Regions from separate parts of the Homo sapiens genome. Here region 2 is linked to region 1. A link means that fine-mapping ties the variant in region 1 to the expression of a gene that starts in the linked region. Tissue or cell type: sun-exposed skin. Region 1 holds a variant in brackets; the other region holds the start of a gene. All regions are shown on one strand. Distances are from middle to middle.

What was found. PIP is the estimated chance that this variant, and not a neighbour inherited with it, causes the effect.
Region 2: ZNF783 starts here. The variant in region 1 is fine-mapped to the expression of ZNF783 in sun-exposed skin (GTEx, PIP 0.98).

The regions. Positions count from the first base shown.
Region 1 is chr7:149,216,778-149,224,867 of GRCh38, forward strand. ZNF282 (zinc finger protein 282) reads left to right here. Exons shown (of 8, transcript NM_003575.4): 8 at 7,035-8,090. The coding sequence ends at 7,870. Among named protein-coding and RNA genes, the nearest start is that of ZNF212, 19 kb to the right of the region's middle. RefSeq lists an enhancer at 3,061-4,050. The variant C/T (reference allele first, on the strand shown) is at 4,507.
Region 2 is chr7:149,258,985-149,267,070 of GRCh38, forward strand. It overlaps ZNF783 (zinc finger protein 783), which reads left to right and starts at 3,212. Exons shown (of 6, transcript NM_001195220.2): 1 at 3,212-3,373; 2 at 7,351-7,746; 3 at 7,835-7,961. The coding sequence starts at 3,350. LOC124901769 (a long non-coding RNA gene) reads right to left here and starts at 3,357. Exons shown (of 2, transcript XR_007060582.1): 1 at 2,663-3,357. RefSeq lists a silencer at 2,810-3,679.

The sequences.
Region 1 (8,090 bases):
GGATATGTAAGAGGGAAATAACTGGTATCCGTTTGACTCAAAGGCAGACCTCAACCCAATTGGATATTACATTCTTGTAAAAGGGACTCCTGAATTTATTTATTAATGAGTGTATACTGAGTCTCGCTCTCAGCATGTTAGTGTAAGACAAGAAGAAGATTCAGTTTGCCCAAAGTTAATGTACATCAGTGCCTCCACTGAAGCAGGAAGCGTAGCTAGGACTCTGGAGTGCAGTGGCTAAAAGGTGCTTCCGGAGTGAGAGGTGGTAAAGATCCTGAAGCTGGGCCACCATTCCCAGGTGCCAACACCCACAGAATATGACGTGAAAGCACCCTCTTGAAATTCCCACATTATTCACTACATTGGGTTAAAACAGTGGTTCCAACCTTTCATAGTTTATATTTTTTTTAGCAGGTATTTACTTAATGCCTGCTATGTGTTACACAGTATTGTAAGCACTTAGAATAAGCAGTGAAGGGCCAGGTGTGGTAGCTCAGGCCTGTAATCCCGGCACTTTGGGAGGCCAAGGCAGTTGGATCACCTGAGGTCAGGAGTTCCAGACCAGCCTGGCCAACATGGTGAAACTCCGTCTCTACTAAAAATACAAAAAACAAACAAACAAACAAACAAAAAACAACTAGCCAGGAGTGGTGGTGGGCACCTGTAACTCCAGCTACTTGGGAGGCTAAGGCAGGAGAATTGCTTGAATCCGGGAGGCGGAGGTTGCAGTGAGCCAAGATTGCGCCCCTGCACTACAGCCTGGGTGGCAGAGTAAGGCTCTGTCTCAAAAAAAAAAATTGGGAGTGAAGAAAGACCTTTTCTTTTGTGGGAAGAGGATGAATAAGCAGGCCAGCAAGCAGGCAAGGTAAAGCCAGGATGCAGCAATGCTCTGAGAACAATGGCAGGGAGAACAGGAAGGAGTGTGGACATGAGGCAGAGCAAAGACAGAGTGGTCAGGAAAGGCCTCCGAGGGGAAGCGGTGCCTGACTGAGTGTGCCCTTGGCAGTGGGAAGGAGCCGGCCGTGGGGTTGCAGGGGGAAGAGAAGACCAAGAAGAGGGAAGTGAAGGCAGGGCCATGGAGGCTTTGGGGAGGAGGATGGAGCCGTAGACTGAGGCACCTGAGCATGTATGACCTATGGGCCAAGTTAGAGTTTGGATTTTATTCTTACAAGAAAGGAGACTAGGCCGGGTGTCATGGCGGGCACCTGTAATCCCAGCTGCTCGGGAGGCTGAGGCATGAGAATCCCTTGAACCCAGGAGGTGAAAGTTGCAGTGAGATCATGCCACTGCACTCCAGCCTGGGTAACAAAGCGAGACCCTGTCTCAGAAAAAAAAAAAAAAAAGAGAGAGAGAGAGACTAATAAAGGGTATGAAATCGGACATGATCTGGTTTACGTTTTTATAGGATTTCAGGAGTGGATTGGCGGGGGGTGCGGAGCCATGTCTGAGGCTCATGCATTTGATGCAGACCAAGTGGAGAGATGCTGGTGGTCAGAGCTGGGGTAGCAGCAGTGCACAGGGAGAGAAAGGACAGATTCAGATGCACTTTGAGAGTGTCACTCATGGGTTGCCTGTGGGGGCTGTGGAATCAAGACTGACTCCTGGGTCTGGGTCCTACAGAAGTGGGTGAATGGTAGTACTGTTTGCTGAAGTGCCAAGCCCTGGAAAAGAACCTGTGTTGCTGGTTCTAGTTTGGAGTCAAGAGTTCTAGTTTGGACCTATTAAAATTTGAGGTGACACTCAAGTAGCAGATCAAGTAGGTGAATATAGGAGTCTGAAGTTCAAGAGAGAGCTTGGGGATAGACTGATTTGGGAGTTACAGGTTGCAGTGACTTCCAACATCAGCGACCTGTAATTGGCCAAACCTCACAGGTTGAGGGCTCATGCCTCCACAGGACCGTTCTCTCTTCAGACACCAGCTGCAAATTTGGGGGTTCTAGGCCACCCTCACTTCTGACCAGCTGGCTACAAATTCTGGGCTTCCCATCACCCCGTCATAATTTGCTAGAATGACTCATAGAACTCAGGAAAGTGCTATATATATCATTACAGTTTTATCACAGCAAAAGGATTCAAATCAGAGCTAGCCAAAAGGAGATCCATAAGGCTAGGTCTGGGATGGTCCTAAGCCTGAAATTTCCATTGTTCCCTCCCTGTGGAGTCAGGATGTGTCACCCTCCCAGCATGTCAACGTGTGAAAATATGCAGAGCATTGCCAACCAGGGAAGTTCGCTGAGCTTTGGCGTTCCGAGTTTCTGTTGGGGCTTCTTTATATAGATATGATTGATTGAATCATTAGCCACGAGGTTCAGCTCAGTCTCCAGCCCCTTTCCCTCCCTGGAGGTTGGGCCTCAAACCCTAAACCTTTAGTCACGTGCTTGGTCTTTTCAGCATGGCAGCCCCATCCTTTGTCATCTCCTTAGCTTAAACTCTCTAAGATCCCACCATGAATAACAAAGGCACCCCTGTCACTCGGGAAATCCAGAGATTTAGAGGCTCCTTCCCAGGAACCAGGGACAAAGGCCAGTCAAGTTATTACACTTAGGTTGTTCAGGACTATATGAGTTCTAGGGACAGTGTAAACAAAGAATTAAAGAGATCTTAGCTCTGAGCATGGCAGAAAACCAGAGGGGCAAGGTGTTACAGAGGCTGGGAGAAGAGAATCTCTTGGGGAGGGTTAACTATGTCAGACACCCATGAGTGGTTGCATATGCAGGACAGGGAAGAGCCTGGGGGATTTGACAGGTTGGATATTGTTGGTGATCTCGGCAAAAGTTTTTCAATGGAGGTTGGGTGTGGTGGCTCACACCTGTAATCTCAGCACTTTGGGAGGCCGAGGCAGGTGGATCATTTGAGGTCGGGAGTTCGAGACCAGCCTGGCCAACATGGAGAGACCCTGTCTCTACTAAAAATACAAAAATTAGCCAGGCATGGTGGCAGGCATCTGTAATCCCAGCTACTTGGGAGGCTGAGGCAAGAGAATCGCTTGAACCTGGGAGGTGGAGGTTGCAGTGAGCAGAGATTGTGTCACTGCACTCCAGCCTGGGCAACAGAGCAAGACTTGGTCTCAAAAACGAAAAAGTTTTTCAGTGGAATGGCAAGGGTGCATGCCTGATTGGAATCATCTAAAAAGAATGGGAGGTGAAGAAGTGGTAAGGGCAAGTGCAGTGACTCTTGATGAGTCTTACTATGAAAAGGAACAGAAATGACATGTGAGGAGCTGGGGCACGGGCCACATGGGCCTAGGGAGGGGGTTCTTTTAAGGTCGGAGATAACTAGACCATTGTCTCGGGTCAGATGCTCCCAACTACTTTAGAACCCTGATTCAAACTGCCTTAAAGAATAAAGAAGCCGGGCACGGTGGCTCACGCCTGTAATCCCAGCACTTTGAGAGGCCGAGACGGGCGGATCCTGAGGTCAGGAGATCGAGACCATCCTGGCTAACACGGTGAAACCCCGTCTCTACTAAAAATACAAAAAAATTAGCCTGGCGTAGTCGTGGTGGGCGCCTGTAGTCCCAGCTACTCGGGAGGCTGAGGCAGGAGAATGGCGTGAACCCAGGAGGCGGAGCTTGCAGCGAGCTGAGATCGCGCCACTGCACTCCAGCCTGCGCAACTGAGCCAGACTCCGTCTCCAAAAGAAAAAAAAAGAATAAAGAAATTTCTTCTCTTACGTAACTGGAAGTCCTAAGGTAGGTCAGGTTCAGGCTTAGTTGATTCAAAGACTCAGCATGTTTTCAAGGACCCAGGTTCTTTCCAATTCCTTGCCTGACCATCCTCGGTGTGGCTTCATCCCCAGGCTGGTAGCACAGCAGCTGCAGCTGTCCCAAGCGTCGCATCCAGACATGAGTGTACAGGAAAGCCCATCTTTTCCTGCACACTCTAAGGAATGAGGAAATCTTTCCAGAAGCCTCCCAGCAAACTTCCCATACCCTACTGACCATAACTAGGTTACATGCTTGCATGTGAATCACTTACCAGCCAGTGACTGGAAAGGAAAAGCCCTCAGGGCCATGCATGGGTTGGGGGGGAGGGGCGTAGGATAGAGGAGGAAGGATGACGTAATCATTCCAGAGTGGAAAAGTAAAACCCACTAGAGACGTGGGCCAGGATGCCAGGCTGTGTGGAGGCCCCTGGAGGGTTTTTTTTTTTTTTTTTTTTGAGATAAGGTTTCACTCTGTCACCCAGGCTGGAGTACAGTGGCGCGATCACGGCTCACCGCAGCCTCGACCTCTCAGGTTTAAATAATCCTCTCGCATCAGTCTTCTGAGTAGCTGGGACCACAGGCGTGTGTCACAGTACCTAATTTTTAAATGTTTTTTTGTAGAGATGGGGTCTCCCTAGGTTGCCTAGGCTGGTCTCAAACTCCTGGGCTCAAGCAATCCTTCTGCCTTGGCCTCCCAATGTGCCGGGATTACAGGCATGAGCCACAGTGCCTGGCCAGCTTGTGCAGTTTTTCAGCTGCCTGAGTGCAGTCACAGGACTGGAGTTCTCCAGGCAAGCACAA[C/T]GGCGGAGCAAAGGCAATCACCGTGCCCTTGCAAGTGCCTGGGCTGCCGGGCCTGGAGAGCCAAGTTGGGTCAGGAAGGCAGAAAAAGGTTGGAGGTGGAGGGCATAGCGGGATGGTGAGAACGTGGATTGAGGTTCACACTGGGTTGGAAGACGGTCAGAGTAGGACTGCCTTAGGTGGGCTTCCCGGGAGACAGCCCCTGGGAGTTTATGTGCATATAGTTTCTTTGCAAGTCCTCTGGGAATAACACCTGGGAAGGAGTGAGAGTAGCAGGACTGGGTAGACAGAGAAGCAAACACCCTCAGTGCCGTGGCCACAGAGGCCACAGCGATCTCCCGGGATTCTCTGGAGCTGGGATGACCCTTCCCAGGCATCCTGCACTGATGTGAAGAGAATTCTTTTGGCCTCTGCACCTGGCCAGTGTCCTGCAGAGATGGTTCTCTGCCAGGCCAATTTTGATTGAGACAGAGAGGGAGGGCAGGCCCAGTCTATTTAAGAGTATCATATAAGGACAGACCTCAGTCAAACACCAACGAATATAGGAGGGCTGGGTGGAAACATGGCAGATGTGGCCTGGGAAGTGGCCTCCGGGGAGCAGTTGGGTCCTAGGCAGAGGGGTGTGAGCACGGAGAAAAGGATGCTGAGAAGAGGTGGGAGGCCGTCTCTTTCTTCAGAGCTCTTCCACAGGCTTCCCCTAAATTGGGGAGCAGGACTCCTCTAGGGAGAAAGGAATTCAAACTGAAGACCAGGGAGGTGATGGAGCGTGAGGCATGAGAACCACTGGGCTGGGGGACAGGGTGGGTGGGAGGGGGAAGGACTGGGCCTGACGTCACCATTCTGATGCTCAGAGCCTGGGCTTTGTCTCCCACTGCCCCCCAAGGTGGTGGAGAACTGTGCACTTGGAGGAAAGGGGGCAAGAACCGCATTTCCTGGGGTGGTAGGTTGGGTGGCCACTGCCACGAGTGCAAGGAGGGCCTGTTATGGTGCTGCCAAGGTCCAGGTGGGTCAGGTGCCAGGGTGGGACTCACATGTCCCAGCTGCCCACACCTGCCCAAGTCAGATGCCCCACATGCTTAGTGGAAACATGACTGCCAACCCATCTGATGCTTATGTTTCCAGCTCCCTGCATTCCATTCCTGTGGGCCTCTAGATGGTTTTCACCTTGGATAAAATTCTTTTCTTCCTATTGAGAGACTGTCCTGAGATAAAAGTGAGCATTGTCAGTGTGTGTGCTGGCTCACATCTGTAATCCCAGCACTTTGGGAGGCCAAGGTGGGAGGATTGCTTGATCCCAGGAGTTGGAGACCAGCCTGGGCAACATAGTGAGACCCTGTCTCAACAAAAATTTATTTTTTATTTTTTATTTTTATTTATTTATTTTTTGAGTCAGAGTCTCGCTCTGTCGCCAGGCTGGAGTGCAGTGGCAGGATCTCAGCTCACTGCAACCTCCGCCTCCCAGGTTCAAGTGATTCTCCTGCCTCAGCCTCCCAAGTAGCTGGGACTACAGGTGCGTGCCACCATGCCCAGCTAATTTTCGTATTTTTAGTAGAGATGGGGTTTCACTATGTTGGGCAGGATGGTCTCGATCTCTTGACCTCGTGATCCACCCACCTCGGCCTCCCATAGTGCTGGGATTACAGGCGTGAGCCACTGCGCCTGGCCTTTTTAAATTGTATTTTATTTATTTACTTTTTTGAGAGACAGAGTTTCGCTCTTGTTGCCCAGGCTGGATGCCTGGGCCAGTGCAATGGCAAGATCTCAGCTCACTGCAACCTCTGCCTCCCCGGTTCAAGTGATTCTCCTGCCTCAGCCTCCTGAGTAGCTGGGATTACATGCATGGGCCACCACTCCCGGCTAATTTTGTATTTTTAGTAGAGACGGGGTTTTTCCATGTTGGTCAGGCTGGTCTCCAACTCCTGAACTAAGGTGATCCGCCCACCTCGGTCTCCCAAAATGCTGGGATTACAGGCGTGAGCCACTGCGACCGGCCGAAAAGATTTGTTTTTTTTTTTTAATTAGCTGGGCCTGGTGGCGCATGCTTATGGTCCCAGCTACTTGGCAGGCTGAGGTGGGAGGATCACTTGAGCCCAGGAAGTCAAGGCTGCAGTGAGCCATGATCTCACCAGTGCACTACAGCCTGGGAGACAGAGCCAGACCCTGTCTGGAAAAACAAACAAACAAAAAACATTGTCCATCAGACTGCAAGTAAGTCTTGTTGTTTCTGGGAAATTCTGCCTTCCAAAATGACTTCTGGACAGCAGGTCCCCTACCCCTTAGCCCTCAGCGTTCTGGAGGGACTTCCTGTCCTTGCTGCGTGCCACCTGCTTGACCCGTTTCTGGGCTCCACAGCAGGGTGGCTTCGAACAGGTCGAAGGGCCACGTAGATCGTGGCCCAGCACCTTGTGCAATCCCTCGTAGTTAGTGGAACTGAGGCTCAGATAGCATGCTCCCTGGGCCCCCCTTCGGGAGCAGTGTGGGGTCCTGGCCGAGAACCCCTGTCAGCATGTCACTTCTTCCTATCTCCCCAGGTGACAGCCTGCTGATGGTGAAGAACCCACCCCCGGCCCCGCCACAGCCCCAGCCCCAGCCCCAGCCACCGCAGCCGCAGCTGCAGTCGCAGCCCCAGCCCCAGAGCCTGCCCCCCATCGCGGTGGCCGAGAACCCGGGCGGCCCCCCGAGCCGAGGGCTGCTGGACGACGGTTTCCAGGTGCTGCCCGGGGAGCGTGGCTCCGGCGAGGCGCCGCCGGGTGGGGACCGCAGCACCGGGGGCGGCGGGGGCGATGGGGGCGGTGGGGGCGGCGGCGCGGAGGCGGGGACGGGGGCAGGCGGCGGCTGTGGCAGCTGCTGCCCTGGCGGGCTGCGGCGGAGCCTCCTCCTGCACGGCGCCCGCAGCAAGCCCTACTCGTGCCCCGAGTGCGGCAAGAGCTTCGGCGTGCGCAAGAGCCTCATCATCCACCACCGCAGCCACACCAAGGAGCGGCCCTACGAGTGCGCTGAGTGCGAGAAGAGCTTCAACTGCCACTCGGGCCTCATCCGCCACCAGATGACGCACCGCGGCGAGCGGCCCTACAAGTGCTCGGAGTGCGAGAAGACCTACAGCCGTAAGGAGCACCTGCAGAACCACCAGCGGCTGCACACGGGCGAGCGGCCTTTCCAATGTGCACTGTGCGGCAAGAGCTTCATCCGCAAGCAGAACCTGCTCAAGCACCAGCGCATCCACACGGGCGAGCGCCCCTACACGTGCGGCGAGTGCGGCAAGAGCTTCCGCTACAAGGAGTCGCTCAAGGACCACCTGCGCGTGCACAGCGGCGGCCCGGGCCCCGGCGCCCCACGGCAGCTCCCGCCGCCTCCTGAGCGAGACTAGGGCTGGGCTGGGGGAGGGCAGGGCCGGACGGAGTGGATCGGGGGCGGCCTGAGCACCAACCACCTTGCCGGGTGTCCTCAGCCACCGTCTGGAAATCGGCAACAGGCATTGCACTCCGGTTGGGGGTCCCCCAGGGTGGGGCAGGGATCCCCCAGATCTGTCTGGTCTGAATGGACGCCCAGCTCATCTAGGGTGGACCCAGCTGCTGGGGAAGAGCCAG
Region 2 (8,086 bases), 42 kb after region 1:
ATCTCAGCTCACTGCAAGCTCCGCCTCCTGGGTTCAGGCCATTCTCCTGCCTCAGCCTCCCAAGTAGCTGGGACTACAGGCGCCTACCACCACGCCCGGCTAATTTTTTGTATTTTTAGTAGAGACGGGGTTTCATCGTGTTAGCCAGGATGGTCTTGATCTCCTGAGCTCGTGATCCGCCCGCCTCGGCCTCCCAAAGTGCTGGGATTACAGGCGTGAGCCACCGCGCCTGGCCTCAGGAGGGACCATGTCTTACTCCTATCAGCCTCCACAGCTCTCAGCACAGGTGCTTGGCACATAGGTGCTCAGCAAATGTTTGCTGAATGAGAAAGTATAATGGGTGTTCACAGAATAGAGAGCTGGGTGTTGTCTGAAATAGAGAAGGCTTCTATGGAGGAAGTGGGATTTGGCTGTACTTCTGGTCTCCCTCTACTAATGCTTCCGTTCCTAACATCTTTATAATTCTGTGTGGGTCCACCTCCTAATCTAAATTACATTCCTGGCTTGGAGGATGAGGGAGCCACAGGAATTCTGTCTCTGACCTGCCACTATCTCTTGGCTGAGGATGTTCTGGTGGGGACAATGGCACTTGAGTGTGCTGACCTCTTGTTGAGTGACCCTGGGTACTACTTTGGTGGCCCTCAAATTGTGACAACCCTACCTTCTGCAGGTGGAGTCACCCTTGTTACTCCACGGACTGGGCCTCCACTGGATGTTGTCAGTTCACCCAGAGATAATCAGGTCCTGGAAATCTGATCCCCCAAAAAACAAACTCACAAGAGACAGATTAACAATTAAAGATGAATGTAGGCTGAGCGTGGTGGCTGATGCCTGTAATCCCGGCACTTTTGGAGGCCGAGGTGGGTGGATCTCCTGAGGTCAGGAGTTTGAGACCAGCCTGGCCAACATGGTGAAACCCCGTCTCTACTAAAAATACTAAAAATTAGCCTGGCATGGTGGCAGGAACCTGTAATCCCAGCTACTCGGGAGGCTGAGGCAGGAGAATCTCTTGAACCTGGGAGGTGGAGGTTGCAGTGAGCCGAGATCGTGCCATTGCACTTCATCTTGGGCAACAAGAGCGAAACTCCGTCTTAAAAAAAAAAAGCCACCATGTAATTTTAATTTATATCAGAGCTGGCTTGACACCCCGGCTGGTCTGCTCAGAAACCACATTATGGTGCAAAGTGTTCGTTTATTAAATATATTTATAAAATCTGAGCATGGGAATGGGAGGTAGCTGTGGGACCCTGATAAACAGTGCCAAGGTTTTCGAACTGTGATCACCAGACCAATAGAATCAGCATTTCTTGGGAACTAGTTAGAATTGCAAATTCGCATCACTTTCATCCCCTCCTGTTTCAGACCTAGAAATGTTGAGGTTTGTGCCTAGCATCCTGTATTTTTAACAAGAACCCTCAGTGAACATGATGCACACTGAAGTTTGAGTACCACTGACTTAGAGAAACTTTTTTTCTAAAAAACGAAGACTAGCTGTCAAACATTATAGCACTCTTTCCTCAACAGAGCTCATTAAATCCTAGCATTTTTGTCTCCAGCCCATTTTCCTGACCCTTTCTTTCTTTCTTTTTCTTTTTTTTTTTTTTTGAGATGGGGTTTTGCTCTTGTTGCCCAGGCTGGAGTGCAATGGCATGATCTCGGCTTACTGCAACCTCTGCTTCCCGGGTTCAAGCGATTATCCTGCCTCAGCCTCCAGAGTACCTCACCACCACACCCAGCTAATTTTTTGTATTAGTAGAGATGGGGTTTCATCATGTTGGCCAGGCTGGTCTCGAACTCCTGACCTCAGGTGATCCATCCGCCTCAGCCTCCCAAACTGCTGGGATTACAGGCATGAGCCACGGCTCCTGGCCCATTTTCCTGACCCTTTCTGTTTGCATTGGACCTTAACTGTTATTCTATAACGTCACCATTTACTGGTATTTTATAATCCTGAATAGATTGGACTGATCCCTGATAAGATCCTAGGGATGCTCTTAATGTCTTTAGTGCATACTTGCAGTTTGTGTTTTAGATTGGGATAGTTCAACAAGAATTTCCAAAATGAATAATGCCAAATATTTATTTGATTTGTTACCTTAAAGTAACACGTCCTAACCTTTCCGCAAATTTTGGGGTTCACCTTACTTAGGATATCAGTTTGTGTTTTTTCTGATAGTTGACCACGCTTTTGCTTGGCTCAAATATTTGTGAAAATAACTTCTCACCCTCACCCCCCCCCCCCAAAAAAGAAAAAACAAAACCAAAACCAAAAAACCCCAAACAAACCCAAACACAGAAAGAAACAAAACTGCAGATTTCTAGCGGGAAGAGTTTGCCAGCTTGTTGGACAAAGACTGTGAGATGAATGGGAAATGCAGAAAAGACAGAAAACAAAGCTTCAACTGCATACAGCACATTTAGTTCAATATGCCTCAGCACAGGCCGAGGAAAATGGGTCCTGCGGTTTATTCAAGATGCCTCAGGGCCTAAATGAGGGATGGACTGATTCACACTTGCTGTGATCTCAGCCTGGACCAAAGCTACAGAAGGGTCCTCGTGGGTGGCTGAGGACTTTCACCAGGCGGGCCCCGGGAGGAGGAAGGGACCCCAGAGTCCTCAGGAGGGGAGGGCAGGCTTAGGAAAAAAAAAAAAAAAATCCTACCATCTTCACGTTTGTTCTGTCAAATTTAAAAGAGACTTTAAAAACGTTCATGTAAGTTTCCCTGGCTTCTCCCTGGGTACACACGTATCCTTTTTACTTTCCCCAACTCAGTTCTGTGGTGCGTGGGAGGCGCTGCAACAGAGTCTCGGTCCGGACTGGAGCCCCGGCGAGGGCCGACCCCGTTCCCCACGCAGCTTTCCCTCGCGAGGTTTCGCACTTTCCAGCGCGGTTCCTTCCCGCAGCCCTCCCGGCTCCCGCGTGGGACGCAGAGAGAGGTTGGGCGCCGCGCTGGCCCGGGAGTGGCTTACGCCTGACGTAGCCCCGCTGGAGGCCGTGGCACGCCCGCCCTGGCGTCAACTCCCGCGCCCCGGGTGAGGGTGGGTGGCCGCGCCTGGGTCCCGGACGCCGCGGGCGCTGAAGGCCTCGGGAGGGCGCGGGGCGGCGGCCGCGGGCGTGCGGTCCTACGGGCTGCAGGGGGCGCTGTGCGCGTCCTCAAGCTCGGCCGCCGAGCGCAGCTCTTTTTTAAAGGGCCAGCGGGGCACGTGGCTCGGGACGCAGTTCGCTGCCGCCCGGCAGTAGCTCTCAGGTTAGGCGGGTCCCGCTCCGCTTCCGCCGTCGCTGCCGCGCCGCCCCGGGCCCGACAGGCCGGGTCCAGGGACTGCAACCCAGCGAGGGACGCGGGCAGCCATGGCCGAAGCGGCGCCTGCCCGGGTAAGCGCCCTCGGCCCCGCGGACGCCCGGAAGGCCCAGGCCGCCGCCGCGTGAGCCCGCGCGAGGGACTCTGGCCGCGCGAGGCCGCGGGGTGAGAGGGCCTTGCGCGCAGCCTCCGCGCTCGTTGCCCCCGGCCCATCGCCCAGCCCGCGTCGAAGGCATTGACCGGGCGGCCCAAATGCCAGGCCCGGCGGGCGGGGCCCCGACGTCAGCGGCTGACGATCCGGCCCATCTGCGGCCTCAGCCAGGCCGGGCCCCAGAGTCACGCTCGGCGACGAGGAGGCCGCGCCTTAGGAGTATTGTCCCATTTGAGGCCTCGCGGCCCCCCCTACAGCAGGCTGGGCGGGCAGGGGCCGCCAGCCCCACGGGACAGTAGCGGAGGCTGAGATGGGAAGGGACAGGCCCAGGGTCACGCATCTATTAGAGGCGGGAGCCTCACGCCGGGGCAGGGATTTTGGAATTAGACACTTTAAAACGCCTCATATTCTACTTTTGCCAAAGAGAAAGATTGTGTCGTTTACAAGAGAGATAGTAGATTTTTTTAAAAAAGATTACTGTAGCAGATTTTATTTAATTTTTTTTTTTGAGAGGGAGTCTCGCTCTGTTGCGCATGCTGGATGGAGTGCAGTGGCACGATCTCGGCTCACTGCAAGCTCCGCCTCCCGGCTTCAAGGGATTCTCCTGCCTCAGCCTCCCAAGTAGCTGGGACTACAGGCGCCTGCTACCACGCCTGGCTAATTTTTCTATTTTTGGTAGAGACTGGGTTTCACTATGTTGGCCAGGCTGGTCTCGAACCCCTGACCTCGTGATCTGCCCGCCCCGGCCTCCCAAAGTGCTGGGATTACAGACGAGAGCTACCGCGCCCGGCCATTTTAAAATTTTTTAATTAAAAAAGTATATATATATACGTGTGTGTGTGTGTGTGTGTGTGTGTGTGTGTGTGTGTGTATATATATATATATATATATTTTTTTTTTAGACACAGTCTCACTCTCACCCAGGGTGGAGTGTAGTGGCGGGATCTCATCTCACTGCAACCTCTGCCTCTGCCTCCCGGGTTCAAGGTATTCTCCTGCCTCAGCCTCCCAATCCCAAGTAGCTGGGATTACAGGCGCAGGTGCCTGTCTCATTTATATCTATCTATCTATCTGTCCAGATACATATCTATATGAATAAGTTTATTCATAAGAATACACTATAAGTATTCCTATACAGAATTTTTCTCCTGGAGAAGGAAGAATCACATCAGTTTTTTTGGCATCTTCATCTATATAAGTTAGGCCAGTTTAGCAGATTTTAGAATCTTGGTTTGATATAGTGCAGTATGTCCAATTGGGAGATTATAATCCTTTGGCCATTTTTGACATACTGGAAAACGCTTGTAAAGGCTCAATAGATGATACCTACTATTATTAATACACCTCAGTGAAGGTTTTGAAACCTTGATTTTTCTGGATACTTTTATTAAAGTATAACTTCCTCTCCCTCCTCTTAGTGAGTGTGCTGAGCTTCTTTTTGGGTTCCCTGAGTGCAAGGGAGAGAAAAAGCGTTGAGGATTCTGCAGGTTTATAGTCCTGTTCCCTGGGAAGAGGGGGCCCTAGAAGGTGACATCATCCACTCCCCCTAGCCTGGGGCTCACTGCTTCACTACCTTTCAGATCACTCCTGTCCACCTGCTCCTCCCTTCTTGCAGCACTTGAGATCCCAAAAAACTCCCCAAAAGGGACAGATTTGCCCTGGACTCTTGTTAGCCCATCCTATCACACTGTTGTTGTTTATAAGTATTCCTATACAGAATTTTTCTCCTGGAGAAGGAAGAACCACATCAGTTTTTTCTTCATCTTCACTGTACATTTACTATGATAGGTGTTCAGTAATTGTTATTGAATGAATGAAGCAATTATAGATTACTAGTGCTAAGGGGGAGGGGCAGTGAAAATCTCTAGGATGCGTTGTCTATGCTAGAATCTTAAAAACGAGAGAGACTCAGGCATACAGAGGATGCATATTGAGAGCTGATGTGAAGTTGGAGGAGGGCCGGGTGGGTCCTCGGAATCCACAGGAGGCTGGCATGGCTGGAGCACGACAGGAACTGGATGGCTCAAGGTCAAGAGAGGTCGGCTGGGCCATGAAGAAGTCTAGATCTTATGCCAGGTACACTGGGAAGCTATTGAAGAGTTTTAAGCAGGGTACTGAAATGATCTATTTGTGTTTTTAAAAGATTACCAGGCCGGGAGCAGTGGCTCACTGACTCACGCCTGTAATCCCAGCACTTTGGGAGGCTGAGGCGGGCGGATCACAAGGTCAGGAGTTTGAGACCAGCCTGGCCAATATGGTGAAAGCCTGTCTCTACTGAAAATATAAAAATCAGCTGGGTGTGGTGGCGGGCGTCTGTAGTCCCAGCTACTTGGGAGGCTGAGGCAGGAGAATCGCTTGAACTTGGGAGGTGGAGGTTGCAGTGAGCCGAGATTGCGCCACTGTACCCCAGCCTGGGCGACAGAGCAAGACTCCGTCTCAAAAAAAAAAAAAAAAAAAAGATTAACAATTACTCTGTGGAAAGTGTATTGTCGGGGAGAAGCCTGGAAGTAGGGGAGAAGGCTGGAAGTGGGGGAGAAGGCTGGAAGTGGGGGAGAAGGCTGGAAGTGGGGGAGAAGGCTGGAAGTGGGGAAATCAGGTGGGCAGGACCGCAGTGGCCCAGGCCAAGCAAGGTGATGGGAACTTGGACTAGACACTGGCAGTGGAGAAGGAGAAACATGGATGGATTTGAGGTAATTTTGGAAGTTAGGACCTGATGGTGATTTAACCATGAAGGATGAATGAAATTGAGGAGTGAGATGTTGATTTGTCTCTCCAACAAGGCTTTTAGCAGCACCAACCAGGACTGTGCCCATTGCGCATGCACAATGAGGGCTTGTGAATCAGATACCAGGGTAAGCTGAGGCACTTGAGAAGCTTTTTCCAAGGCACTGAAGGACAATGGAATAAAAGAGGTGGAGGTTAAAAAAAAGGCCATATGAACTATTTATACCATATCCCTGAGCTGGAACCATCACCATAATCACTGTCATTGTCTCAGTCTGCTCAGGCTGCCTTGGTTCCCGGCAGGGCTCTTTTCCTGGTTTGCAGACGGCTGCCTTCTCATTGTATCCTCACGTGGCATACAGCAAGATCATCTCCCTTGTGTCTCCTCTTACAAGGGCGCTAATCCTATTTATGAGGGCTCTGCCTTCATGGCCTAATTGCCTCCCAGAAGCTCCACCTCCAAATACCGGCATATTGGGGATTAATGCTTCAGCAGATGGATATTGAGGGAGACACAAGCATTCATTCCATAGCAGTCAGTGTCATCTTAGCCCTGCAACATGGGGCTCATGTTTATTATCTGTGCTGTGCTACACATTGTACTAAGTGCTTTGTACACAGATTTTTCTTAATTCTCTCAGTGCTATTGTATAGGTACTATTATTATCTCCATTTTCTAGATAGGGAAGGGAAGTTGGAAGCTGTTGAAAACACCTTGCCCACAGTTGGCCAGCTTGTAAGTGGCAGAGCTGAGTTGCACCTGGGCTGTCCACTGGGGAGTCATGTTCTCTGTGCCACAAAGCCTTGTCCTTTCATTTTTAGAAGAGGAAACTGAGACCCAAGAAGGGGAGTCACTTGTTTGAGACTGCACGTGGTTGCTCAAGCCTGTGGGGCATGCCCCGTCTCCATAGCTAGCCTGTAGGACAGGAGCCGGGGCTGTTTTTCTTCCACTTTCCCACTTGCTGACACGTTGGTCCAGCCACTATCTCTTGTATCAGTTAGGCTGGATTCCTAACTGATACCCTAGCCTCTCCCTCTCCCCCCCAGTCTGCTGCTAACTCAGGAGCCCAGATGGGACTTTACCATGGCAGGTGTCATTTCCGAAGTGTGTTTTTGAGGTGGAAGTTTTGATTGTATAATTCTCATAACATCTCTCTTTTCTCTTCTTGTGAGCAGGACCCCGAGACAGACAAGCACACAGAGGACCAGAGTCCTTCGACACCCTTGCCCCAGCCAGCTGCTGAGAAGAACTCGTACCTCTACTCCACGGAAATCACACTGTGGACGGTGGTGGCCGCCATTCAGGCCTTGGAGAAGAAGGTGGATTCCTGCCTGACCCGCTTGCTGACTCTGGAGGGGCGCACGGGGACAGCCGAGAAGAAGCTGGCCGACTGCGAGAAGACAGCTGTGGAGTTCGGGAACCAGCTGGAGGGCAAGTGGGCCGTGCTGGGGACCTTGCTGCAGGAGTACGGGCTGCTGCAGAGGCGGCTGGAGAATGTGGAGAACTTGCTGCGCAACAGGAACTTCTGGATCTTGCGGCTGCCCCCGGGCAGCAAGGGGGAGGCCCCCAAGGTAGCACCGGGACACCCTGGGGTGGGGGAGCTCGAGGGGCTGAGCCTGTGAGCGTGTGGGTGAGTGAGTGCGACACTTATGGTTCCAGGTGCCCGTGACCTTCGATGATGTGGCCGTGTATTTCTCTGAGCTGGAGTGGGGCAAGCTGGAGGACTGGCAGAAGGAGCTCTACAAGCACGTGATGAGGGGCAACTACGAGACGCTGGTCTCCCTGGGTAAGGCCACGGAGGGAGGATCTGGGCCTCTGTCCACAGGTTGTCTGTGGACAGTCTGTGTCTTTGCTTTGGCTTTTGGTACTTTGGGCATCTCTGCATCTCTGTGGGCATGTGGGGTCCAGCTC